Linked DNA regions of Homo sapiens: all the other regions are linked to region 3. Evidence: fine-mapped expression QTL. A gene starts in region 3. Each other region holds a variant in brackets. All regions are shown on one strand. Distances are between the middles of the regions.

Region 1 (5,132 bases), 180 kb before region 3:
CAGCTACTAGGGAGGCTGAGGCAGGAGAATGGCGTGAACCCAGGAGGCGGAGCTTGCAGTGAGCCGAGATAGCGCCACTGCACTCCAGCCTGGGCGAAAGAGCGAGACTCCGCCTCAAAAAAAAAAAAAAAAAGAAAGAAAGAAATCCTGCCAGGCACAGTGGCTCACGCCTGTAATCCCAGCACTTTGGGAGGCCGAGGTGGGCGGATCATGAGGTCAGGAGATCGAGACCATCTTGGCCAATACGGTGAAACCCCGTCCCTACTAAAAATACAAAAATTAGCTGGGCTTCGTGGTGCATGCCCATAGTGCCAGCTACTCAGGAGGCTGAGGCAGGAGAATCGCTTGAACCCCGGAGGTGGAGGTTGCAGTGAGCCGAGATCGCGCCACTGCACTCCAGCCTGGTGAGAGAGTGAGACTCCGTCTGAAAAAACAACAACAAAAAAATCCTTTCTTACTCCAATATCATACAGGTATTTTTTTTTTTAAGTTTCCATTTTTTTTTTTTTTTTTTTTTGAGACTCAGTTTCACTCTTGTTGCTCAGGCTGGAGTGCAATGGCACGCTCTCAGCTCATGGCAACCTCTGCCTCCTGGGTTCAAGCAATTCTCCTGCCTCAGCCTCCCGAGTAGCTGGGATTACAGACATGTGCCACCATGCCTGGCTAATTTTGTATTTTTAGTAGAAACGAGCTTTCTCTATGTTCGTCAGGCTGGTCTTGAACTCCCAACCTCAGGTGATCCGCCCACCTCGGCCTTCCAAAGTGGTGGGATTACAGGCATGAGCCACCACGCCCGGCCAACTTGACAAGTTTTTAAGGTATAATTCATTCAGAGTCTAAAAGTTTAGTAGGATCATGGTAGTCAGGAGAATAATTTCACTGCAGAGGTGTGTATGTGTTTAGCAAAGTGATTGCTAACAGATTTTCCTGAAATCCCCGACAGCACAAAGTATCCTTTACATTATTATCTTTCATGCATATAAAATCTCACATATTTCTGTATAGTGGGAGAACCTGGACTTTAACATTTTATATGAAAGAAATGCATAAACCCTGTCTTTAGAAGATAATGTAAGATTTGGAAACAATATGGTAAAAGTAGGAATAGAACAAAAGGGGGAAAATGACAAAAGAAATTTTTTTAAAAAAGTCCATGGGATTCGTGGGTTTCTCAGCTTAAAGGGACAAGGGAAAGCAAGTCTAGGATGACTCCCAGTATTCAAAGTTACCAGAAGCTTGAGATGATGAACTGCTAAGGTAGTGAGTGTGCCCTATTTTGGGGAAAAGATGGTTTTCTCTTCAAGTCTGTTGCTCCTTATCTTTCCTCAATGAATTTCTAAGGAGCATTGAAATTTGTGTGAAAGAAAGGCTTCCAAAAGTAAATAAGTTTAAAATCCAGGGTTTTGTATTATACTTTCAGATTTCCACAAAGGCCCAGTTTCTCTGTTTTTTTTTTAAAGTTAAAAAAAAGTTGAAAATCAAAAGCCCCAAGTGGGAAGTAATTTGTGTGTATCTAAATATTGTATACATTCACTGTTTTATCCCAGCAATTTATAAACTGGGTGTGCAGAAAGCAGCCTGGAGCAAAAACATTGTAATGGGAGTTAAGAGATCAGGATTTTAATGATGGTCTGCTACTAATCTATACGAAAATGGTTTGTGTATAGGTTTCAGATTCCTTAAATATGTAGAATAAGACTACATAATCTTCAAGCTTCTCTGCAGCACTTAAGTTCAGATTCTACTTAAGCACTTACGGAATGTGTCAGTGTAATTCCAATTTACCCTATTCCAGATTTGTAGCAAAGCATTTGTCAGATGAATCATAGGGTGGTTTCTCTTCAGTTTTCAAACTTTGGAGCAAAACCTATATAGGTGCTTTTGGCGGCCTTACAGTTAATAGGATTTGCAGGATACAATAGTTTTAGACAAGCTCCTGGTATGTGTTGTGAACAAACGTTTTCTGAAGAGGAATTTGGAGCAAAGCAACTATTTCAGGGAACAGTTTGCAAACTGGGGAGTTGAAGCCTTAGGTGTAAAACAAAGGTGCATTCCAGAGAACAAAGGGAGGGTTTGGGTTTTACAGCAAAAGTTTCTGCCCAGGTTCCCAGTCAGGTTCGTTTATACAAATGAACGATTGAACCGCACTTAGTTCTGATTGGTTGATACAGCTGAGCCCTGATTGGTTGAGGCAGGTGAGCCCTATAAGACCCAACACTCAACAGAGGTGTGGGTTTGGGGAGAACGCAGAGTCCATGTGTGACCTCTAGTAGGTAAATGACCACGTGTCTCTATTTTAAATTTAGACCCAGTTAGCCGCTCTGGATGTTGACGGATTGGCTCTTTCAGGTTCACATTTGTTCACAGTCTGTATGACCAAGAAATTTGCAAAACAGAACAACTAGCGCTAACTCTTAATAGCCTCAGTCAGAATAAACAGACAAGACACTGCACCAAGGGCGTATGGGCATTGCACCTGCTCCTCATGGGCTGCTTTCCCGAGCCTTATGCCCACAGCCCTCCTTAGCATTATCGCATTATGAGGCTGGAAGTGCTTTTTTTTTTCTTTCTTTCTTTTTCTTTTCTTTTTTTTTTTTTGAGACGGAGTTTCGCTCTTGTTTCCCAGGCTGGAGTGCAATGGCGCGATTTCGGCTCACTGCGACCCCTGCCTCCCGGGTTCAAGCGATTCTGCTGCCTCAGCCTCAGCCTCCAGAGTAGCTGAGATTACAGGCATGCACCACCACGCCCGGCTAATTTTGTATTTTTAGTAGAGGCGGGGTTTCTCCATGTTGGTCAGGCTGGTCTCGAACTCCCAACCTCAGGTGATCCGCCCGCCTCGGCCTCCCAAAGTTCTGGGATTACAGGCGTGAGC[T/C]AGCGCGCCCGACCCACAGAGTGCTTTTTTTTTTTTTTTTTTTTCTCAAGCAGAGGGTATGGGTCTACTTCTTTGAACATTCGCTCAGATCGTAAGGTAACCCCAAGAATCGGCATCACTCTCTGGTCTGGGCGCCTGGATAGTCACGCATGGAGTCCGCGAGGTGCTGGCGCCGGAGCACGCTGGGAACGCCGGGCTCCCGGCCGGCCTGACCCGGAAGGGCTGGCGCATGGTAACCCCAGCTTCCCTAGCAACCAAGCAGGCGCAAGAAGCAACCAGCCGCGCTATCCGCTCCCGTTGCTACCGGAATGCCTCTTCAGGTTAGCGATTACAGCTGGCAGCAGACGAAGACTGCGGTCTTTCTGTCTCTGCCCCTCAAAGGCGTGTGCGTCAGAGACACGGACGTGTTCTGCACGGAAAACTATCTGAAGGTAAGAATGCAAGTCTTGCCTGCCGGTCTCCGGGGGTGTGGTCCGAAGCTTCTGCAAGAGCGCAGCTGGGCACGAGCAACAGGCTCATCTTTGCCGATAAACGTCCTAAATTTTTAATCCTATTAAAAAAATGAATCCCATACAGGTAACACACCATCTGTAGACAGATAATCAGATCAGAGACTACTTTTATCCAGGGCTTCCTCATATGCCTTGCTAATCTTTCACTACCTGGCATAAATTTAGTGGGCCTTTTAGAAAGTTATTTTACCTTTTTCACGTGTTTCTTAATACGCGTGCTTAATTTGTGTAACTAACTTAGTTTCTGTTTTCACCCTTCTGCATAGGTCAACTTTCCTCCATTTTTATTTGAGGCATTTCTTTATGCTCCCATAGACGATGAGAGCAGCAAAGCAAAGATTGGGAATGACACCATTGTCTTCACCTTGTATAAAAAAGAAGCGGCCATGTGGGAGACCCTTTCTGTGACGGGTGGTAAGTTCTTTATTAAAAGATGTTCATCTGGTTGTACCTTTTCGGTTTCAGACCTTTTAAAAAATTTTATTTTGAAGCACCTATATTGTGTAGGGGAAGATAGATTTTTTTTTTTTAAGAGTCTTGCTCTGTCGCCCAGGCTGGAGTGCAGTGACATGATCTCGGCTTACTGCAACCTCTGCCCCCGGGGTTCAAGGGATTCTCCTACCTCAGCCTCTCAAGTAGCTGGGATTATAGGTGTCCGCCACCACGCCCGGCTAAATTTTTTTGTATTTTTGGTAGAGCGTTTTGCCATGTTGGCCAGGCTGGTCTCACACTCCTGACCGGTCATTAAGTGATCCACCCGCCTTGACCTCCCAAAGTGCTGGGATTACGGGTGCGAGCCACCACACCCGGCCAGATAGACTTTCCTTTTACTCTCCAAGGTTCAATAGCTGGGTCTATAAAATAAACTAACAACAGAAGGATTGACAGAAGAAAATGTATAGAAATTTATGAATTTTTAATATTAGTGCTTGAGGGCATCACAGGGAAAAAAGTGAATACCCCCCAAGCGGTGAGATTTGAGAGTTTAGGGACTGTCTTAATAGGGGAAGGGGGAGGGGATGTAGGCCGCTTAGAACAGGAAATGATTTTTAGGAAAGATGAATGGATCCTTAGAAGAATAGATAGGAAATGTGATAGCTTTTAACAAAATTTGTCAGAGTGTGGTGTTGACTTGTAGTTTCCTTTTCTGGGAGAATAGTCAATATTCCCTGGTTAATGAAACTCCAGGGGAAGAGATTTATGACACTTGGGTTCCTTTGGAAAATCTGTTTTTAGGCAGATAAGAGGAGTTCTGGCAAAACCTCTCCCTGCATTTGCTGCTTTCAAGTGCCTTTAACTCAAAATGATCGCTATATGAAAGCAGCATATTTTGGGGTGGCATATCCTGAACTCATTCAATTGCTGTTTTAGAAAAAAAAAAAGGCTTATGAGCCTAATTTAAGTGATACAGTGCTTCAGCAGCCATTTAAATAAACCTAAAGGCTGAATTAGTCAAAGTTAGAGCACATTAAGCAGAAGATGTGGGCTCATGTCTTAAGGGTAAGCCCTCCTGATATATAGCCTTTATTGAGTACTTAACTTTGCGTTAGGTGTTAACATGCCTGTAATTCCATGAAACAACCTGTCACTTAGGTATTATTACCCTTTTTTTACAGGGGAGGCTACTGACATATGGAAAGTTTGAGTAATTGGCAAAATCACACAGCTAGTGACTGGCAGCCTGGAACTGGAGCCTTAGCAGTTTCACTCTAGAGCAGATGTTCCCAACCCTGGCTACATATTTGAAT
Region 2 (5,000 bases), 62 kb before region 3:
CCAATTAATAACCCTACAGTGGCCTCCAGGTGTTCAGGTGAAAGGAAGAGTTGTGTGTCTCTCACTTCAAATCAAAAGCTAAAAATGATTAAGCTTATTTGAGGAAGGCATGTCAAAAGCTAAGTCTCTTGGGCCAGATAGTTAGCCAAGTTGTGAATGCAAAGGAAAAGTTCTTGAAGGAAATTAAAAGTCCTTCTTAGTGAACACATGAATGATAAGGAAGCCATATAGCCTTATTGCTGACATGGAGAAAATTTTAGTGGTCTTGGTAGAAGATTGAACCAGCCACAAAATTCCCTTAAGCCATAGCCTAATCCAGAACAAGTCCTTCCTAACTTGCTTCAAGTCTATGAAGGCTAAGAGTGGTTAAGAAGCTGTAGAAAGAAAGGCGGAAGCTAGCTGAGGTTGGTTCATGAGGTTTAAGGAAAGAAGCTATGTCCGTAACATAAAAGTGCAAGGTGAAGTAGCAAGTGCTGATGTAGAAGGCGCACCAAGTTATCCAGGAGATCTAACTGAGATAATGGATGAAGGTGGCTACCCCAACCAGCAGATTTTCAGTATAGATGACACAACTTTCTATTGGAAGAAGATGCCATCTAGGACTTTCCTAACTACAGAGAAGTCAATATCTGCTTCTAGGCTTCAAAGAACAAGCTCACTTTCTTGTTAGAGGCAAATGTAGCTGGTGACTTTAAGTTGAAGCCAGTGTTTACTTACCATGCCTTGAGAAATCCTAGGACCCTTAAAAAATATGCTACATCTACTCTGCCTGTGCTCTGTAAATGGAACAACAAAGCCTAGGTGACAGCCATGTGTTTACAACATGGTTTACTGAATATTTTAAGCTCAGTGTTGAGACCTGCTGCTCAGAACAAAAAGATTCCTTTCAAAATACTAGACATTGTATAGCAATACCTGGTCAATCACCGAAGGGCTCTGATGGAGATGTACAAGGAGATTCATGTTACTTTGTTTCCTGCTAACACAACATCCAGTCTGTAGTCCATGGATCAAAGAGTAGTTTTGACTTTCAGGTTGTATTATTTAATAAATACATTTTGTAAGGCTGTAGCTGCTATAGATAGTGATTGTTCTGATGGATCTGGGCAATGTGTGTGAATTGAAAATCTTCAGGAAAGGATTCACCATTCTAGATGCCTTTAAGAACAATTGTGATTTGTGGGAAAAGGTCAAAATATCAACATTAACAGGAGTTTGGAAGAAGTTGATTTCAACCTTCATGACTTTGAGTGGTTCAAGACTTTAATGGAGGAAGGAACTGCAGATGTGGTAGAAGTAGCAAGAGAATTAGAATTAGAAGTGGATCCTGGTCGGGTGTGGTGGCTCATGCCTATAATCCCAGCACTTTGGGAGGCTGAGGTGGGCGGATCATGAGGTCAGGAGATCGAGACCATCCTGGCTCACACGGTGAAATCCCATCTCTACTAAAAATACAAACAATTAGCTGGGCGTGGTGGCAGGCGCCTGTAGTCCCAGCTACTCGGGAGGCTGAGGCAGGAGAATGGCGTGAACCTGGGAGGCGGAGCTTGCAGTGAGCCAAGATCGCGCCACTGCACTCTAGCCTGGGCAACAGAGCGAGACTCTGTCTCAAAAAAAAAAAAAAAAGAAGTGGATCCTGAAAATGTGATCCAATTGTTGTAATCTCATGATAAACTTGAACAGATAAGGAGTTGCTTCTTATGGATGAGCAAAGAAAGTAGTTTCTTGAGATGCAATCTACTCTTGGTGAAGATGCTGTGAATATTATTGAAATGACAACAGAGGATTTAGAATATTACACAAACTTAGTTAATAAAGCAGTGGCAGGGTTTGAGAAGATTGACTCCAATTTTGAAAGTTGTTCTACTGTGGGCAAAGTGCTATCAAACAGCATTGCATGCTACAGAGAAATCTTTCATGAAAGGAGAGTCAATCCATGTGGGAAACTTCAGTGTTGTCATACTTCAAGAAATTGCCCCAGCTACTCCACCCTTCAGCAGCTACCACAGTGGTCAGTCAGCAGCCATCATCTTTGAAGTAAGACTCTCCACCAGCAAAAATATTACAATTCACTGAAGGCTCAGATGATCACTAGCACTTTTTAGCAATAATGTATTTTTAAATTAAGATATGTACAGTTTTTTAGACATGATGTTATTGCACACTTAATAGATTACAGCATAGTGTAAACCTAACTTTTACATGGACAGGGAAACCAAAAAATTCATGTGACTTGCTTTATTACATTGGTTTGGAACTGAACTTGCAGATATCTGAGATATGCCTGTACTCTGGTTCCAATCTGGTAAAATGGAATCTGTATTATGTATACTTCACATGGGATTTGATGCACACATTATTTATATAGAGAAATAGGACTCCTGAACAATTACTGCATACACTTATGTTCATATTTAAATTACTTCATTAACTTTTTAAAAAAATTACAGTAAAATGCATACAGAACATTTCCCCTCAGGAGAAAAAAGTGGATGTGTCAAGGCCAGAAATAGAAGAGATTATAGCTGTTAATTTTTTTAAGCCTACACGTTGATTATTACTACTCTCATTTGAAAAGTGATTCTCATCTTTTTTGTGTCAGAGATCCTTTTGAGAATCTGAAAGCTATGGACAGTTTCTTCCAAGAAATGCATTTACTTGCATATGTTAAAGAAAATTTTCTTTTTTTTCTTTTTCTTTATGAGACAGAGTCTCGCACTGTTGCCCAGGCTGGAGTGCAGTGGCGCAATGATCTCAGCTCACTGTAACCTCCGCCTCCCCGGTTCAAGTCTCAGCCTCCTGTGTAGCTTGGATTACAGGTGCCTGCCACTATGCCCAGCTATTT[T/A]TTTTTTATTTTTTATTTTTAGTAGAGACGGGGGTTTCACCATGTTGGCCACTCTGGTCTCGAACTCCTGACCTCCTGATCAGTCTGCCTCGGCCTCCCAAAGTGCTGTGATTACAAGCATGAGCCACTGTGCCCGGCCTAATTTTTTTGTTTTTTGAGATGGTGTCTTGCTCTGTTGCCCAGGCTGGAGTGCAGTGGCGGGATCTCGGCTCGCTGCAAGCTCCGCCTCCCGGGTTCACGCCATTCTCCTGCCTCAGCCTCCCAAGTAGCTGGGACTACAGGTGCCCACCACCACGCTCGGCTAATTTTTTGTATTTTTAGTAGAGACGGGGTTTCACTGTGTTAGCCAGGATGGTCTTGATCTCCTGACCTCGTGGTCTGTCCGCCTTGGCCTCCCAAAGTGCTGAGATTACAGGCGTGAGCCGCCGCGCCCGGCCATTTTAATAGCGACGGGATTTCACTATGTTGGTCAGGCTGGTCTTGAACTCCTGACCTCGTGGTCTGCCTGCCTCAGCCGCTCAAAGTGCTGGGATTACAGGCATGAGTCACCGCGCCTGGCCCCAGCACCCCGGCCGAGTACTGTGGCGGAATCTCACCTCTAAATTAATTAATTTTCTGTTAGAGGGTATATAATGCTGAAAAATATTTTTTTTTCCCTGTTCTTTGCAGGACTTAAATTACATAAGAAATGCATGATCGACCGGGCGCGGTAGCTCATGCCTATAATCCCAGCACTTTGGGTGGCCGAGGCGGGCGGCTTACGGGGTCAGGAGATCAAGACCATCCTGGCTAACACGGTGAAACCCCGTCTGTACTAAAAATACAAAAAATTAGCCGGGCGTGGTGGTGGGCGCCTGTAGTCCCAGCTACTTGGGAGCCTGAGGCAGGAGGATGGCGTGAACCCGGGAGGCGGAGCTTGCAGTGAGCCGAGACGGCGCCACTGCACTCCAGCCTGGGCGACAGAGGGGGACTCCGTCTCAAAACAAAACAAAACAAAAAAAAAACAAAAAGAAATGCATGTTCATGATAGGGAAAAAAAAATAGTAAGCAAAAGAAATTTAAAATGGTCTATAATTCTTTTATCTAGAAATAATTACTGTTGATATTTGGTGTACTTTGCTCATAAATTTATATGTTATATTATTTTTAACTTTTCTTAATATTTTATGCTCTTTTCTTTTTTTTTTTTTTTAAGACAGAGTTTCACTCTTGTTGCCCAAGCTGTAGTGCAATGGCATGATCTCGGCTCACTGCAACCTTCGCCTCCTGGGTTCAAGCAATTCTCCTGCCTCAGCCTCTGGAGTAGCTGGGATTACAGGCGCGCACCACCACACCTGGCTAATTTTTTGTATTTTTAGTAGAAACGGGGTTTCACCGTGTTAGCCAGGCTGGTCTCAAACTCCTGACCTCAGGTGATTCACCTGCATTGGCCTCCCAAACTGCTGGGATTACAGGTTTGAGCCACTGTGCCCGGCCTTTATGCTCTTTTTCATTAAAAATATATTGTGAAGTCATCATTCTGTTTGTACACATTTTCTTTGAGGAGGTTCTTATAAAATATATCTTCTGTAGTGACATTTAGTTTTTCTGTGTTTTGAGTTCTTTCTTTTTTAAAAAAAATTATTGGTAGAACTGGTCTCGCTATGTTGCCTAGGCTGGTTTTGAACTCCTGGCTTTAAGTGATTCTCACACATTGGCCTACCAAAGTCCTGGGATTACAAGCATGAGCCACTGTGCCTGGACTGCCCTCTCTCTGACTTTTTTTTGAGACATAGTCACACTCTCTTGTCCAGGCTGGAGTGCAGTGGCATGATCATGGCTCACTGCAGCCTCAACTCCTAGGCTCAAGTAATCCTCCTGCCTCAGCTTTCTGAGTAGCTAGTACTATAGGCACATACCACCATGCCCAAATAATTTTTTAATTTTTATTTTTGTAGAGACAGGGTCTTGCTGTGTTGCCCAGGCTGGTCTTGAACTTGTAGCGTCAAGCAGTCCTCCAGCCTTGGCCTCCCAAAAGTGCTAGGGTGACAGGTATGAGTCACTGCACCCCGCCTGAGTCCTTGTTTTTTATAGTTTATGTTTTCTTATAAGGCATTTAGACACACACACACACACACACACACACACACACGTACATATACATACATACTTTCAT
Region 3 (5,128 bases):
AGACCAGCCTGACCAACACAGAGAAACCCCATCTCTACTAAAAATACAAAATTAGCCGGGCATGGTGGTGCATGCCTGTTATCCCAGCTACTCGGGAGGCTGAGGCAGGAGAATCGCTTGAACCCGGGAGGTGGAGGTTGTGGTGAGCCAAGATCACGCCATTGCACTCCAGCCTAGGCAACAAGAGCAAACTCCGTCCCAAAAAAAAAAAAAAAAAAAAAAAAGAAAGAAGTATACTTCTAATGTCCAAATAATACATAATATAGTCATTTTGAAAATCTGCACATCATAACAGGATTCCTCATAGCAGGATATTTTCATGCTCAGTCTTGTATTTCAGCACAAACTAAAGAGTTACACATCACAGTATGTCTGTAGTATCATGGGCTTCCCAGATATGGCTGGACTTCAGCAACAGTAGCCTTTTAAAAACAAATTCCATGGCCCCAATATCATTTAGTTACTTTTATTTAAACTTACCAGCAACTGAACACTATCTTTCCCTAAAAGATGAAGAATCTTGTAAATGCTTGCAAAGATTAAGGGATAAGTGTAACTCCTCAGTCTCTCTGTCCATTCCCAAGTCAAATAACCATAATTAGTAACATTAAGGAGTAAATGTCCAATAATATTGAAACCTATTTCCGTGTTTTTTTTTTTTTTAAGATGGGGTCTCACTCTCTTGCCCAGGCTGGTCTCAAACTTGGGCTCAAGTGGTCCTGCCTCTACAGGTGCACACCACTTCACCTGGCAAAATCTATTTTCATTTCCATTTATAAAACAATATTTTATTTTGTGGCAGTCTTAAAACAGCATTTTATACTGGATATTTGCATTAAAAATTCAATTGGCCAACTAAACTCTTAACTTCTTCAAGGCAGTAATGTGTTTTTTACTTTCTCTGTATCCTCCAAGTGCTAAGTACTGTGGGAATGTATGCTAACGGCTGTGTCAAGTATATTAACATAAAAGAAAGATACAGGAGAAATATTTGTATAAAATAATGGTATACTTTGATGAGTTAAAATTATTTGGGGAAAATACGGAAAACTGAAAATATGTATAGTAGTCCCCCCTTATCTGTGGTTTCTCTTTCCATGTTTCAGTTGCCCAGAGTCAACCACTGTCTGAAAATATGAAGATATTTTGAGAGAGACCACATAAAAGTTCACATAACTTTTATTATAGTATTGTGTTATACTTGTTATATTTTAATACTGTTAATCTCTTACTGTACCTAATTTGTATAAACTTTATCATAAGCGTGTGTGTATTTTTTACATATATAAAAACAATATATATAGAGTTTGGTACTGTCTACAGTTTCAAGCATCCACTAGGGATTTTGGAAACTATCTACTGAAGACGAGGGAGCAAGGGGGACTACTCTAAAAGAAACTGAGCACAATTTCCAAGATGAATACACACTCATAGTCTGGAAAAGAAACCACAAAGGATATTTGAAAACCATGTGATGTGAAACTTCAAGAGACTGCCAGTATTCATCTGGAACAAAACTTGTCTGCACTAAAAAGCAGTTTAATATTCGTAAAGCTATGGTAAACAAGAGCAGATAAATATTTTCTCCAAGAAGATCTGAAAAACAGAACAAAACAGGTAATAGTGGCACAAAAGTCAGGCAGTTCCACTTGCAAAACTTAAAATCTGCTGCTCTGGTTGGCTCCTTGTAAGGCACAGTAGTGACCTCTGGTCCCTCCACACCATTCTTAAAGCCAACTTGGTTGGTTATACAAGCACCACAGCGTCATCACTGGGTGACTGCCACTCTTTTAGTTTAACCAACTTTTCTTGCAACTTATTGTGTAAAGATAATATTAAAATAAATACAAAAAAAAAAGAGTGGGTTAACTAAGGCCTTAGGCTAATTAATTAGGTCATACTATGTGTGTATCTAATGAAAGAAACCAGCTAACAAATTACTAATTTGGGAAGCAGCCCTTTGTATATGTGCAATATAAAATGGTCCTCTGTACATATATATTGATGATTACTATTATATATGCCAGGCACTGTGTTAATTTCTTCACATGCATCTCACTTAATCCTCCAAACAATATTATGGGATAGGTATTATTAGCCCCATTTTACAGACGAGCAAATTGAGGCCCAGAAATTAAACTGCCTTGTCCAAATAAAGTTGTAAATTACTTATCAGGATTCAAACCCGGGTCTGTGTGATGTCTCCAAAGTCCTGCTCTTGACCACAAATGGACAGCCTGTCGGCCAAATACAGAGTATTTTTTAAAAAATTGAATTTAGTTGCCAACATTTAAAAATCAGAATTTATATTAAAATCTGTGTTTCCAGCATTTCCCAGCATTTCAAAACTCAAGATCTGGCAACACAGAGCTCAACGGGCAACTGGCTGGTAATGAAATGGAGGGGGTTCCTTTTAGATGGGGGTAGGAGCTCTCCAGACAGTGTCCCCTCACTCACCCCCGCGGCGCCTGGCGCTCTTCTCCTGGGTGTTGAAGTACAAGGTAGACTTTCTCTTTCGCAGCTTTATCTTGCCGTGGGAGCGGTTCTGGAGACCATGCAAAGTGAGGCTGGCATCTCCGCCCCCCGGCTCCATTCCGCACTTGCTTAGGGGCCTCCTCATCCCTGGCCGCCACCTTCCTAAGGCGGAAGAAAGCTGCAGTAGCGCGCTGCTCGTCCATCCATTAAGTTTGGCCTTTGAGAGCAGTCGTCGCTCGCAAGCCCGGAAGTAACCGGGAACGGGCAACTTCGTAGCTCCCACCCGACGTGGTGGCCTCCTTGCGGTTTCCTTTCGCCGTTTCCGAACCGAGGGATTGCTACTCGCCTTTGGCTTGGCGGTCTCTGTGCTCGGGGGTCCGAAAACTGCTGGAAGGCCCCCGGTCTCTGGAGGGGAGCAGGCGGTAGCGAGTTTAGTGACGTGGAGCAGGCGCAGAACAGTCGGAGGTACCTGAGTGGTTATTAAAAACGGTAACGGTAATTGTAGACGTCAGTGTTGGTGTTAACATTTCAGGTTCGTTGCTCTCACAAAAAATGCCTGTTCAACGAGGTAGGCAGGGTAGGGATGATTTAGCTTGTTGTACAGATGTGGAAACAGGCCGAATGGTTCCTATTTTTTTTGTTGTTGTTGCTGTTGTTAGGTTTTTTTTTTGTTTTTGTTTTTGTTTTTTTTTTTGAGACGGAGTTTCGCTCTTGTAGTCCAGGCTGGAGTGCAGTGGCGCAATCTGGGCTCACTGCAACTTCTGCCTCCCGGGTTCCAGTGATTTTCCTGCCTCAGCTCCCAAGTAGCTGGGACTACAGGCGCGCCACCACGCCTGGCCAATTTTTGTGTTTTTTTGTAGAGACGGGGTTTCACCATATTGGCCTGGCTGGTCTGGAACTCCTGACCTCGTGATCCGCCCGCCTCGGCCTCCCAAAGTGTTGGGATTACAGGCGTGAGCCACCGCGTGCGGCCCACTCCTCTTGTTAAAAGTAAAACCAGGCCGGGCGCGGTGGCTCACGCCTGTATTCCCAGTACTTTGGGAGGCCAAGACGGGCGGATCAGGAGGTCAGAGGATCGAGACCATCCTGGCTAACACGGTGAAACCCCGTCTCTACAAAAAATACAAAAAATTAGCCGGGTGTGGTGACACGCGCCTGTAGTCCCAGCTTCTCGGGAGGCTGAGGTAGGAGAATGGCGTTAACCGAGGAGGCGGAGCTTGCAGTGAGCCGAGATTGCGCCATTGCACTCCAGCCTGGGCGACAGAGCGAGACTCCGTCTCAAAAAAAAAAAAAAAAAGAAAAAGTATGCATTTAAAACCATTGAGAACATTCTGTAATAGAAAAGGTTTTAGTTTTGTCTTATACCCTTCCCTAATTCACTTCCTGTACTCCTTATGTATTTATATTCTTGTTTTAATTAGTAACATATTATAAAAATATTGTTCACTCCAGTGCAAAGTAGTGACATAACATCTTTTAAAAGGACATTGTACTAAGTGATGGCTTTGCTTTCCATTTTTGTATGCAGATTTGAAGAGATTTCCTGGGTGTGGAGTGTGACTTTCCAAAACCAGCTTTTCCTTGAGCTGTATTTGTTGCAGCAATGTTTAGGAGATTGACTTTTGCACAACTGCTTTTTGCCACTGTCCTTGGAATTGCTGGAGGAGTATATATTTTTCAACCAGTATTTGAACAGTATGCCAAAGATCAGAAGGAATTAAAAGAAAAGATGCAGTTGGTACAAGAATCAGAAGAGAAGAAAAGTTAATACTACATGGAGTTAGGCCTGGCGCAGTGGCTCACGCCTGTAATCCCAGCACTTTGGGAGGCCGAGGCGGGTGGATCAGGTGGTCAGGAGTTCAAGACCAGCCTGACCAACATGGTGAAACCCTGTCTCTACTGAAAATACAAAAATCAGCCAGGCTTGGTGGCATGCGCCTGTAATCCCAGCTACTTGGGAGGCTGAGGCAGGAGCATCACTTGAACCTGGGAGGCAGAGGTGGCAGTGAGTCAAGATCACGCTGCTGCACTCCAGCCTGGGTGACAGAGCGAGACTCCATCTAAAAAAACAAAAAGCAAAAAAACCCACAAATACCTCATGGAGATGAACTGTAATAATTGCTTAAAGTTCCATTTAATTATGTTAACTCTAATCTAGCAAAAACATAGATGTACTTAAAAATAAATCATGGATAATGATTTTTTAACCTAACACTGTTAATTTTAATGTTTATTGTATATTTGTCATTTTATGTCTTTTTACCAGGACAGATAAGTAATTTCCTTTTAAACAAAAGTGAATATTTTAGGAATATTTTCTACTTGAGGTTTATTTTTCTAGGAATTCAGCATATGCAGTATCATGGGGTGCCAGTCTCAGTGTGTATATAATAATTGGGAAGGGTGTTTGCAATAGTGTTTGTAGATATGTGAACCAACTTAAACTACCTCAGGCAGAAATCCACTCCGTTACCCTGCAGTTAGATTGGTTTAATATATTTTGGCAGTCATTCAATCCCAGCCGTTTTTCATCTCAGGCAGTGTGGAGGAGTAGTTGAGAGTTGGGATGGCTCAGATCAAATTGAGGTTTTAGAGAAGGTAGATGTTGTTTGAGAGGATGGCAGATATGACACAGATGTTTTTTAATCCACTA
Region 4 (5,132 bases), 160 kb before region 3:
TTGTGATACCTTGTGATTGTGTGAGTTAATACTTAATAAACTCCCCTTTATATATATCTATCTATACTATTAGTTATGTCTCTCTAAAGAACCCTGACTAATATACACGAGTATAAAAATATCCCTTTGAAATCTTGCTTTCAATTGTTTTGGGCTTGTATCTAGAAGTGGATATAGCAGATCATATGGTAATGGTAATTCTGTTTTTTTTTTTTTTTTTCCTGAGACGGAGTCTCACTCTGTTGCCCAGGCTGGAGTGCAGTGGTGCGATCTCGGCTCACTGCAAGCTCCGCCTCCCAGGTTCAAGCCATTCTCCTGCCTCAGCCTCCCCAGTAGCTGGGACTACAGGTGCTCACCACCACGCCTGGCTAATTTTTTTTGTATTTTTAGTAGAGACAGGGTTTCACCATGTTAGCCAGGATGATCTCGATCTCCTGACCTCGTGATTCACCTGTCTCAGCCTCCCAAAGTGCTGGGATTACAGGCATGAGCCACCGCGCCCGGCCTATTTTTAATTTTTTGAGGAATTGCCATACTGTATTCCATGGCATTTGGACCATTTTATGTTTTCATCACAGTGTGCAAGGATTCCGGTTTCTCCCATTCTCACTAACACTTGTTATTTTGGTTTTTTGAGAGTAGCCATCCTAATGGGTGTGAAGTGGTATCTCATTGTGGTTTTGATGTGCTCTTCAGTGCCATTTTAATTTGAACTATATCTCTGAAACCCACTCATTCCCTTTTTTCCTAAATCTTTGAGATATTGGTAAGTATAACATTTATTCTTGCTTGCTCTTTTCCTCTCTTCTCCCATTATTTGGCCTATGCTTTCTCTTAAAAAAAAAAAAAAAAAAAAAAAAAAAAAAAAAAAAAAGCTTTATTGGCTGGGTGTGATGGCTCATGCCTGTAATCCCAGCACTTTGGGAGGCTGAGCAGGTGGACTGCTTGAGGTCAGGAATCCGAGACCAGCCTGGCCCATCTCTACTAAAAATACAAAAAATTAGCCGTGTGTGGTGGTGTGCACTTGTAATCCCAGCTACTCCGGAGGCTGAGGCAGGAGAATCACTTGAACCCAGAAGACAGAGGTTGCAGTGGGCCAAGATTGTGCCACTGTATTCCAGCCTGGGCGACAGAGTGAGACTCCATTTCAAAAACAAAAACAAACCCCAGCTTTATTGAGATATAATTTATATACCATAAAGTTCATTCTTTTAAAGTGTAGAATTCATTGTTTCTTAGTATGTATACAAGTTATTCAGCCATCACCACTATGTAATTCTGGAACATTTCATAACCATAAAAAGAGACCTATTGGCCAGGCATGGTGGCTCACACCTGTAATCCCAGCACTTTGGGAGGCTGAGGGGGGCGGATCACAAGGTCAAGAGTTTGAGACCAGCCTGGCCAATATGGTGAATTCCCATCACTATTAAAAATACAAAAATTAGCCAGGTGTGGTGGTGTGCATCTGTAGTCCCAGCTACTCGGAAGGCTGAGGCAGGAGAATTGCTTGAACCTGGGAGGCAGAGGTTGCATTGAGCCGAGATTGAGCCACTGCACTACAGCCTAAGCGACAGAGCAAAACTCTGTCTCAAAATAAATAAATAAATAAATAAATAAAGAGCCCTATTTTCATTAGCAGTCACTCCCTACTTTTCCCTCCACCATAGCCCCTGGAGGAGACAGAATCTACTGTCTGTTTCTATAGATTTGTTTACTCTAGACATTTCACATACAGTGTGTGGTCTTTGGATGTGATGCCCATCAGTCTTTATGGGAGGCTTTCTTTCACTTAGCAAAATGTATATAGGGCTTATACATATTGTAGCATGTATAAGTTTTTCATTCCTTTTTATGGATGAATAATATGGCATAGTATGGATGGCACCACATTTTGTTTATCCATTCATCAGTTGGTGAAAATTTAGGTTCTCTTCACCTTTTGGCTATTACAAATAGTACTACTATGACCATTCATGTACTTCTAGTATTTAAGTATCTGTTTTTTGTTTTGTTTTGTTTTGTTTTTGAGATGGAATCTTGCTCTGTTGCCCAGGCTGGAGTGCAATGGCATGATCTCAGCTCACTGCAACCTCTCCTTCCTGGGTTCAAGTGATTCTCCTGCCTCAGCCTCCTGAGTAGCTGGGATTACAGGCAAGCACCACCATGCCCAGCTCGTTTTTTGTATTTTTTGGTAGAGAGGGGGTTTTGCCATGTTAGCCAGGCTGGTCTCTAACTCTTGACCTCAGGTGATCCACCCACCTCGGCCTCCCAAAGTGCTGAGATTGCATGCATGAGCCACCACGCCTGGCCTTGAGTGTCTGTTTTTAATTCTTTCATGTATATACTTAGGAATAGAATTGCTGGGTCATTTGTAATTCTGTTTAGCTTTTTGGGGAATCATCAAATAGTTTTCCACAATGGCTATACTATTTTTCATTCCCACCAACAATGTATGAT[GATT/T]CTAATTTTTTTACATCTTTGCCAACACTTCTGTTGTTGCCAGATGGAAAGTCTTGACTATGAGTTGTCCCAGTTCTTGGCACATTAAACAAAGAATTGAACAAAATGCACAAACAAAGCAATAAAAGAACAAAACAACGAAAGTGCAGGTTTACTGAAGCAAAAGTACACTCCACAGAGTGTAAGCGGGCTCAAGCAAGCAGCTCAAGAGCCCCGATTGCAATGTTCTTTCAGGTTTGTACTAAACTAAAAGAATTTGGTAGCATTCCTGGGTACCGTTTAGAGGCTTCCCATTGGTTGCACCCTACACAAATGAAGGCTTGGCCCATTACTAATCAGAGGCTGAAGTGAAGTCTTGGCCCATAACTAATTAGCAATAGGGGAGAGAGGGGGTTTTGTAGAGGGAGGGGCCTCTGGCCCTTGGCATGGAGAGGTGGGGTTTTTCTTTTGGCCCAATTCCAATAAGCCAGCTGCTAGTTGGCCTCAGGCTCCCTGTTCCAGACCCTGTTCTGCCTCATTTCCCCCTGAGAGACTTGATCCCAATAAATCTTTATGGGAGGCAGAGGAACTGATGGTCTGTCTTCTGTAATTGCTTCGTGCGGATTAGGGCAGAGTCCCTACATATTGGGGACCACAGAACTCTTGCCCTGCTCTGTCTAGTGGAGAGAGGGTGACTTCTTGAAGGCTAGGGCTGGCATCGTCACCTGGAACTGGCTAGAAGCCCTGCTGCATGATCATTTGAAGCTTAATGTTCTCTAGGTGAGAAGAAATAAATCTGGTTACATGATTAAACAAAAATGGTCCAAAAATCAATGTAAGTACAAGTATTAATAATGTGCTGGCTAGGGGAAGGAGCCATGAAACCCAGCTTAGTATCCTTGACCAGGGGCCCCATGACTTGGACAACTGTTGTCATATTTTAGAGGCCTGGTCAGCTAATTTTGGGGCAGCATCCCTTACTAATCCTGATTGGTTGATATGAAAACAGTGCTTTCCCTCTAGGAAAAGATATAAGCCACTTTTTTCAGCAGTTAGGAGATCCAGTCCCTGTATTAGTCCATTCTCACACTGCTAATGAAGACATACCCAAGATCGGGTAATTTATAAAGGAAAGAGTTTTCATTGAGTCACAGTTCCACATGGCTAAGGAGGCCTCAGGAAACTACCAATCATGGCAGAAGACACCTCTTAACAGGGTGGCAGGAGAGAGAATGAGCACCAGCAGGAGAAATGCCATAAAACCTTATAAAACCATTAGATCTTGTGAGACTCACTCATTATCATGAGAACATCATGGGGGAAACTGCCCCCATGATTCATTTACCTCCACCTGGTCCCACCCTTGACACGTGGGGATTATTACAATCCAAGGTGAGATTTGGGTGGGGATACAGAGCCCAACCTTATCAGTCCTCTTCTGTTTTGTAAAGTGACTGCCAAAGAGTCTACCTGATTTTGTAAGGCATACTTTGGGCAGTGTCTTCCAAGCCGTCTGAAAGCTCCTTGGACAAGCGTTGGTAATAGGATAGAGAAGTTGGAAGCCCACTATTTCCTGTTTCTACGCCTGCAGTTATTCGTAACCCTACCTGAAAGGGTATGAGTTGGGTGGCTTGTTTGTGCCTGATGGTTGCAGTTAAAGGTATAATGAGAGACTGGTTATTGGGAGCTATATTGATCTCGGGGGCTAAGTAAACAAGTGTGCAGTGCAAACAATTGGTTCCAGTCCATTTGGCTAGTAAACGTAAGTAGGAACTAGTCCCACACAGGAAAAAGGCTGCTTGTTTTTCAAGACAAAAATTGTTCTCTATGATGAACATGTAGGTTAGCTTGTTGTTTTCCTTTTCCCAAGTGGTTAAGGTCCCTGCTACAGTGGCCCTGGTTAAAGGCTGGAGGGGGCCTTGGGTATCGGGGGATCCCACCCCCAGTATTTCAACGTAGGTTCTTTCTGTTTTCCATAAGTGTTGGCCAGCTGAGAAATAAAGAGAGACAGTATAAAGAGAGGAATTTTACAGCTGGGCCATCGGGGGTGACATCACATATCGGTAGGACTGTGATGCCTGCTTGAGCCTCAAACCAGCAAGTTTTTATTAAGGGTTTCAAAAAGGGGGTGTAAGAACAGGGAGTAGATACAAAGATCATATGCTTCAAAGGGCAACAAGCAGAACTACTAATAAGGGTGTAACAAAGATCACATACTTCTGAGGGAACAGGACAAAGGGCAAAAGCAGAACTACTGACAAGGGTCCAACAAAGATCACAAGGCAAAGGGCAAAAGCAGAACTACTGATAAGGGTCTATGTTCAGCAGTGCACATATTATCTTGATAAACATCTTAAACAACAGAACACAGGATTCAAGAGTAGAGAACTGGTCTGACCACAAATTTACGAGGGTGGAGTTTTTCCCCCACCCTAGTAAGCCTGAGGGTTCTGCAGGAGACCAGGGCGTATCTCAGTCCTTATCTCAACTGCACAAGACAGACATTCCCAGAGCCCAGAGCGGCCATTTATAGACCTCCGCCTAGGAACACATTCCTTTCCCAGGGTATTAATATTAATATTCCTTGCTAGGAAAAGAATTTAGCGATATGTCTCCTACTTGCATGTCCATTTATAGGCTCTCTGCAAGAAGAAAAATGTGACTCTTTTTGCCTGACCCCACAGACAGTC
Region 5 (5,132 bases), 56 kb after region 3:
TACCAAATTCCATCAAAACTCAGTTACATGTTTTGGATTGGCATCAAGAATTATTTGCTTATAGTTTCTGTTATCTTGAAAGGATAATGCTTATTTGGCTGACATGTGAGGTAAAGTCGTTCCCCACATTATCTAGTGCACTGTGTAATTTTTGTCCATTCACATCTGTCACTTGTCCTTATGTGTGCCTGTACACTCACATTCTGACTTTAGTCCTTAGCTCAGATGCCCCTGTGTGAAGTTTTTCTGATTCCCTCCTTAGACATTGTGGGCTCCTTCTTCTCCCTCTTGTGCTATCTCCCCAGCCCTCCCATCTCCCCAACGGCTTGTGCATACTTCTGTTACAGTTCTTCTTCTTCTTCTTTTTTTCTTTGAGACAGAGTTTTACTCTTGTCGCCCAGGCTGGAGTGCAATGTGCGATCTCGGCTGGCTGCAACCTCCGCCTCCTGGGTTCAAATGTTTCTCCTGCCTCAGCCTCCCAAGTAGCTGGGATTACAGGCATGCGCCGCCACGCCCGGCTAATTTTGTATTTTTAGTAGAGATGGGGTTTCACCATGTTGGTCAGGCTGGTCTTGAACTCTCAACCCCAGGTGATCCGCCCACCTCGGCCTCCCAAAGTGCTAGGATTACAGGCATGAGCCACCATGCCGGGCCCTATAGTTCTTGTTTCCATGCATTTTCCTTGGGCATTTCCACAAACAGCTTACCTATTAGACTGTTGCTCTTCTAGAGCCACATTCTTGGTGCTTAACATAGTGGCACATCCACAATTCTTGTTTGTTAGATGTTTAATTGATGTGCTCATGAGCTACTGCTTAAATGACTGAATGAATTTCAGTCATTTAAACCAGGCTCTCTCCCTCCTCAGTGGCATCAAGCTTTACTAGTATATCTTTGGATCATTGGTGGAGGCCAATTTACTTATCAAACCTCATTTAAAATTATTAACAGATTTTGGAGAGGTATATGTATGCTATTCTGCATTTAACTTCTGTTATATTTGAAGTACATTTAATATATATTTTTTGGGAAATACTTTCCTATGTGTTGTGAACACTACAACCCTTTCCCACATCCTCCTATGCTTCGTAATTTTGATAATTTCACATTTGTCATTTGAGCCAAGTTTATTTTTCTCTAAAACAGCTTAAAATTTCTGTTAAAAAACAGATCCCCATCTATTCTAGCTTATAGAGGTTGGAAAAATGTTTAAAATCTAAACGTGATTAAAGGTTTGTAGAAATCACAAAATAAAGATTTTGGCTGGGCACAGTGGCTCACACCCAAAGTAATCCCAGTACTTTGGGAGGCCGAGGCCGGCTGATCACCTAAGGTCAAGAGTTTGAGACCAGCCTGGGCAACATGGCGAAACCCTGTCTATACTAAAAATAGAAAAATTAACCGGATGTGGTGGTGCATGCCTGTACTCCCAACTACTTGGGAGGCTGAGGCATGAGAATCACCTGAATCCAGAGGCAGAGGTTGCAATGAGCCAAGATCGGACCACTGCACTCCAACTCCAGCCTGGGTGACAGAGTGAGACTCTTGTCTCAAAAAACAAAAACAAACAAACAAACAGAAAAAATAACCCTGGCTATAGTTGAGAGACTCTTTGGAGTCAGGTGTGGACTAAATGTTGTATTCTCTTACGATGTTTAATGTGGTTTTTTGTAAGACTAAAGACTCCAGAATTCTGTTACAGAGTTGTTTGCTGATTTGTTTCTTTTGTGTAAGTGCCCTTTTCATTTCTAGATCATGGTTACTCTAACATCGTTCCTCAAATATATGCATTTCATGGAGTTAAATGAAATACAGACTTTAGGACAATTAAACAGACTAATGGAAAAACTTGGCAAAGTTTTTTTAAGTGGGTCCTAAATTATTAGCTAGAATTCAGAAATTTGGGTTCGGCTTCTTTAATTTTAAAATTAAGAAGAGACATGGGCTGGCCTCTTTAACATACAGTGTTGAATTACAGAATGCATAAACGTTATTCCTTGTCTCTCTTCAGATACTTGGCATTTTTATAATCTAGTGCCCTACTTTCTAGGTATTAAATGGGGGAACCCAAGTGCTAGTAGTTAAAATTAAATATAGTACTGTGTTCAAAAGAAAATTCGGATGATAGCTAATGCATTTTCGATGTTTCTCTAGAGGGTGAAACACCATTTCTGTTTAAAGCATTCTACTATAATTCTTCCTCTAGTGACTGCATCTCAAGTAACTTTTTTTTTTAAGCCCAAGACGGGAGCGACTTATATAAATGTAATATGGCACATTTGAAGACTGGTTTTGGGTAAGGTCACCTCAAGGACCTGGCACCTATTAGGTATTTCACTTTTTAGCCATTCAAATATTTATTAATTACCCTGAGAACTACCTCCCTTTGCTCTCCCCTACCCCCTGGCGAATGCAAAAGGAAGAAACAGAATTACTTTGAAAGAGAAATTCTAGGTAGAAAGTATGAGAAAAGAGCAGAAACCAGGAAAGTGAGAGAAGAAGCTAGAAGAAAGGAAAGAAAAATATCAAAGGCGGAATAAATATAAAAGCTGGTAAATTAACAGATTAAGGGAAAAAAGTAGCAGTCTCCTTGATACATGCTGAAACAAAATGTGATAAAGTTGACACCCATTCATAATACTCGTACTTAGCAAACTAGGATAGATGAACTTCCTTGACCTGATAAAAATATGTACCAAAAATCTACAGCAAATGTCATTCTTAACAGTGAAATGTTAGAATCAAGACATGACGAGACTGGGCTGGGCGTGGTGGCTCACACCTATAATCCCAGCACTTTAGAAGGCTGAGGCAGGTGGGTGGCTTGAGCCCAGGAGTTCCAGACCAGCCTGGACAAGGGAGGCTGGGGCGGGACAGTCACCTGAGCCTGGGAGGCCGAGGCTGCAGTGAGCTGTGATTGTGCCATTGCACTCCAGCCTGGACAACAGAGTGAGATCTTGTCTCAAAAAAAAACAAAAAAAAAGAAAAAAAAGAGATAAGACTACCTGTATCACCATGTCTATTCACTGTTTTTTTGTTTTGTTTTGTTCTTACCTATTTTTTTTTTTT[C/TC]TTTGAGTCAGAGTCTCACTCTGTTGCCCAGGCTGGAGTGCAGTGGCGTGATCTCGGCTCACTGCAAGCTCTGCCTCCCGGGTTCACGCCATTCTCCTGCCTCAGCCTCCCGAGTACCTGAGACTACAGGTGCCTACCACCACGCCCGGCTAATTTTTTTGTATTTTGAGTAGAGACGAGGTTTCACTGTGTTAGCCAGGATGGTCTGGATCTCCTGACATTGTGATTCGCCCACCTTGGCCTCCCAAATTGCTAGGATTACATGCATGAGCCACCGCGCCTGGCCGACTTTTTATAATTAGACTAAAAGGTAAGATTAGAAAGGAAGAAGTAATTTATTTTTACCTAATATGTTTAACAGATTGCTGGAATTAGTATGGCTATGTAAGAAATAGAAGATACATGTTTAAAAGTTATCACAGTAGTGACAAAAACAAAGTATCAATAAGTTGAAAGATGTACAATATCTTCATGAAAAGAGTTTATTGAAAACTTTTTTTTTTTTTTTTGGGATGGAGTCTCGCCCTGTCACCCAGGCCAGAGTGCAATTGTGCCATTTTGGCTCACTGCAACCTCTGTCTCCTGAGTTCAAGCAATTCTTCTGCCTCAGCCTCCCGAGTAGCTGGGATTACAGGTGCATGCCACCATGCCCAGCTAATTTTGTATCTTTAGTAGAGATGGGATTGCACCATGTTGGCCAGGCTGGTTTTGAACTCCTGACCTCATGATCCACCCACCTCGGCCTTCCAAAGTGCTGGGATTACAGGCATGAGCCACTGTGCCTGGCCCGAAAACTTTTCAAAAAGATGCTTTTTTTTTTTTTTTTTTTTTTTTTTGAGATGCAGTGAGTGATCTCGGCTCACTGCAACCTCCGCCTCCTGGGTTCAAGCTATTCTTCTACCTTAGCCTCCCAAGTAGCTGGGACTACGGGCACACGCCCCCAAGCCTAGCTAACTTTTTTTTTTTTTTTTGGTATTTTTAGGAGAGATGGGGTTTCACCGTGTTGGCCAGGCTGGTCTTGAACTCCTGATCTCATAATCTGGCTGCCTTGGCTTCCCAAAGTGCTGGGATTACAGGTGTAAGCCACAGTACCCAGCCAAAAATATTCTTTTCTTAGAGTTTATTTATTTATTATTTTTATTTTTTTTTGAGACAGAGTCTAACTCTGTCACCCAGGCTGGAGTGCAGTGGCACGATCATGGCTCACTGAAACCTCTGCTGCCCGGGTTCCAGCAATTCTCCCACCTCAGCCTCCTGAGTAGCTGGGATTACAGGTGCCTGCCACCGCGCCTGGCTAATTTTTATATTTTAGTAGAGATGGGGGTTTCACCATCTTGGCCAGGCTGGTTTTGAACTCCTGACCTCGTGATCCACCCGCCTCGGCCTCCCAAAGTGCTGGGATTACAGGCCACCATGAGCCACCATGCCTGGCCGAGTTTTAGTTTTTAGAGCAGTTTTAGGTTCACAGTAATACTGAGTAGAAAGTACAGTTTCCATATATTCCCTTCCCTCCCAAACCCCCCAACATGCATAGCCTCCCCCACTATCAACATCCCATACCAGAGTGGTACGTTTGTTACACATGATGAACCTCTATTGACACATTATCATCCAAAGTCCATAGTTTAGATTGGAGTTCACTCTTGGTGTTGTACATTCTATGGGTATGTATACAAATGTATAATGACATCTATCTATGTTATAGTGTCACACAAAATAGTTTCACTGCCCTAAAAATCGTCTGTTCTCTGCCTATTCATCTCTTTCACTTCCCCCACTCCAACCCCTAATAACCACTGATCTTTGTACTATCTCCACAGTTTAGCCTTTCCTAGAATGCCACATAGTTGGAATCATACAGATTGGCTTCTTTCAGTTAGTAATATGCATTTAAGGTTCTTCCATGTTTTTTCATGGCTTGATAGCTCATTTCTTTTTAGTGCTGAATAATTTTCCATTGTCTGAATGTACCACAGTTTATTTATCCATTCATCTACTGACGAACATCTTGTTGCTTCTGAGTTCTGGCAATTATGAATAAAGCTGCTATAATAAATATCAGT

Which allele goes with the higher level. Positions count from the first base shown, and alleles are read on the strand shown. Sizes are in standard deviations (SD) of each study's normalised expression. Not every link is listed here.
For the expression in CD4 T cells of the gene that starts at base 2,649 in region 3, allele TC in region 5 goes with a higher level than allele C (moderate effect, 0.50 SD a copy in CEDAR).

What was found.
Region 1: its variant is fine-mapped to the expression of PIGB in whole blood (TOPMed, PIP above 0.99).
Region 2: its variant is fine-mapped to the expression of PIGB in whole blood (TOPMed, PIP 0.95).
Region 4: its variant is fine-mapped to the expression of PIGB in whole blood (INTERVAL, PIP 0.96).
Region 5: its variant is fine-mapped to the expression of PIGB in CD4 T cells (CEDAR, PIP 0.95).

Annotation. Positions count from the first base shown.
Region 1 is chr15:55,496,378-55,501,509 of GRCh38, reverse strand. It overlaps DNAAF4 (dynein axonemal assembly factor 4), which reads left to right. Exons shown (of 10, transcript NM_130810.4): 2 at 2,926-3,303; 3 at 3,651-3,798. The coding sequence starts at 3,181. It overlaps DNAAF4-CCPG1 (DNAAF4-CCPG1 readthrough (NMD candidate)), which reads left to right and starts at 2,926. Exons shown (of 16, transcript NR_037923.1): 1 at 2,926-3,303; 2 at 3,651-3,798. The variant T/C (reference allele first, on the strand shown) is at 2,873.
Region 2 is chr15:55,379,138-55,384,137 of GRCh38, reverse strand. The region is part of intron 3 of CCPG1 (cell cycle progression 1); the gene reads left to right. All of the region lies in intron 10 of DNAAF4-CCPG1 (DNAAF4-CCPG1 readthrough (NMD candidate)), which reads left to right. Among named protein-coding and RNA genes, the nearest start is that of MIR628, 8.6 kb to the right of the region's middle. RefSeq lists a silencer at 1,373-1,552. The variant T/A (reference allele first, on the strand shown) is at 2,846.
Region 3 is chr15:55,316,743-55,321,870 of GRCh38, reverse strand. PIGB (phosphatidylinositol glycan anchor biosynthesis class B) reads right to left here and starts at 2,649. Exons shown (of 12, transcript NM_004855.5): 1 at 2,458-2,649; 2 at 1,461-1,596; 3 at 481-598. The coding sequence starts at 2,620. PIGBOS1 (PIGB opposite strand 1) reads left to right here and starts at 2,748. Exons shown (of 2, transcript NM_001308421.2): 1 at 2,748-3,007; 2 at 4,004-4,687. The coding sequence starts at 4,079. The coding sequence ends at 4,243. It also overlaps a transcript of RAB27A not described here. RefSeq lists enhancers at 2,390-2,469, 2,540-2,619, 2,680-2,769, 2,820-2,889.
Region 4 is chr15:55,479,576-55,484,707 of GRCh38, reverse strand. The region is part of intron 4 of DNAAF4 (dynein axonemal assembly factor 4); the gene reads left to right. The region is part of intron 3 of DNAAF4-CCPG1 (DNAAF4-CCPG1 readthrough (NMD candidate)); the gene reads left to right. Among named protein-coding and RNA genes, the nearest start is that of DNAAF4-CCPG1, 16 kb to the left of the region's middle. The variant GATT/T (reference allele first, on the strand shown) is at 2,461.
Region 5 is chr15:55,260,483-55,265,614 of GRCh38, reverse strand. All of the region lies in intron 2 of RAB27A (RAB27A, member RAS oncogene family), which reads left to right. Among named protein-coding and RNA genes, the nearest start is that of RAB27A, 27 kb to the left of the region's middle. The variant C/TC (reference allele first, on the strand shown) is at 3,070.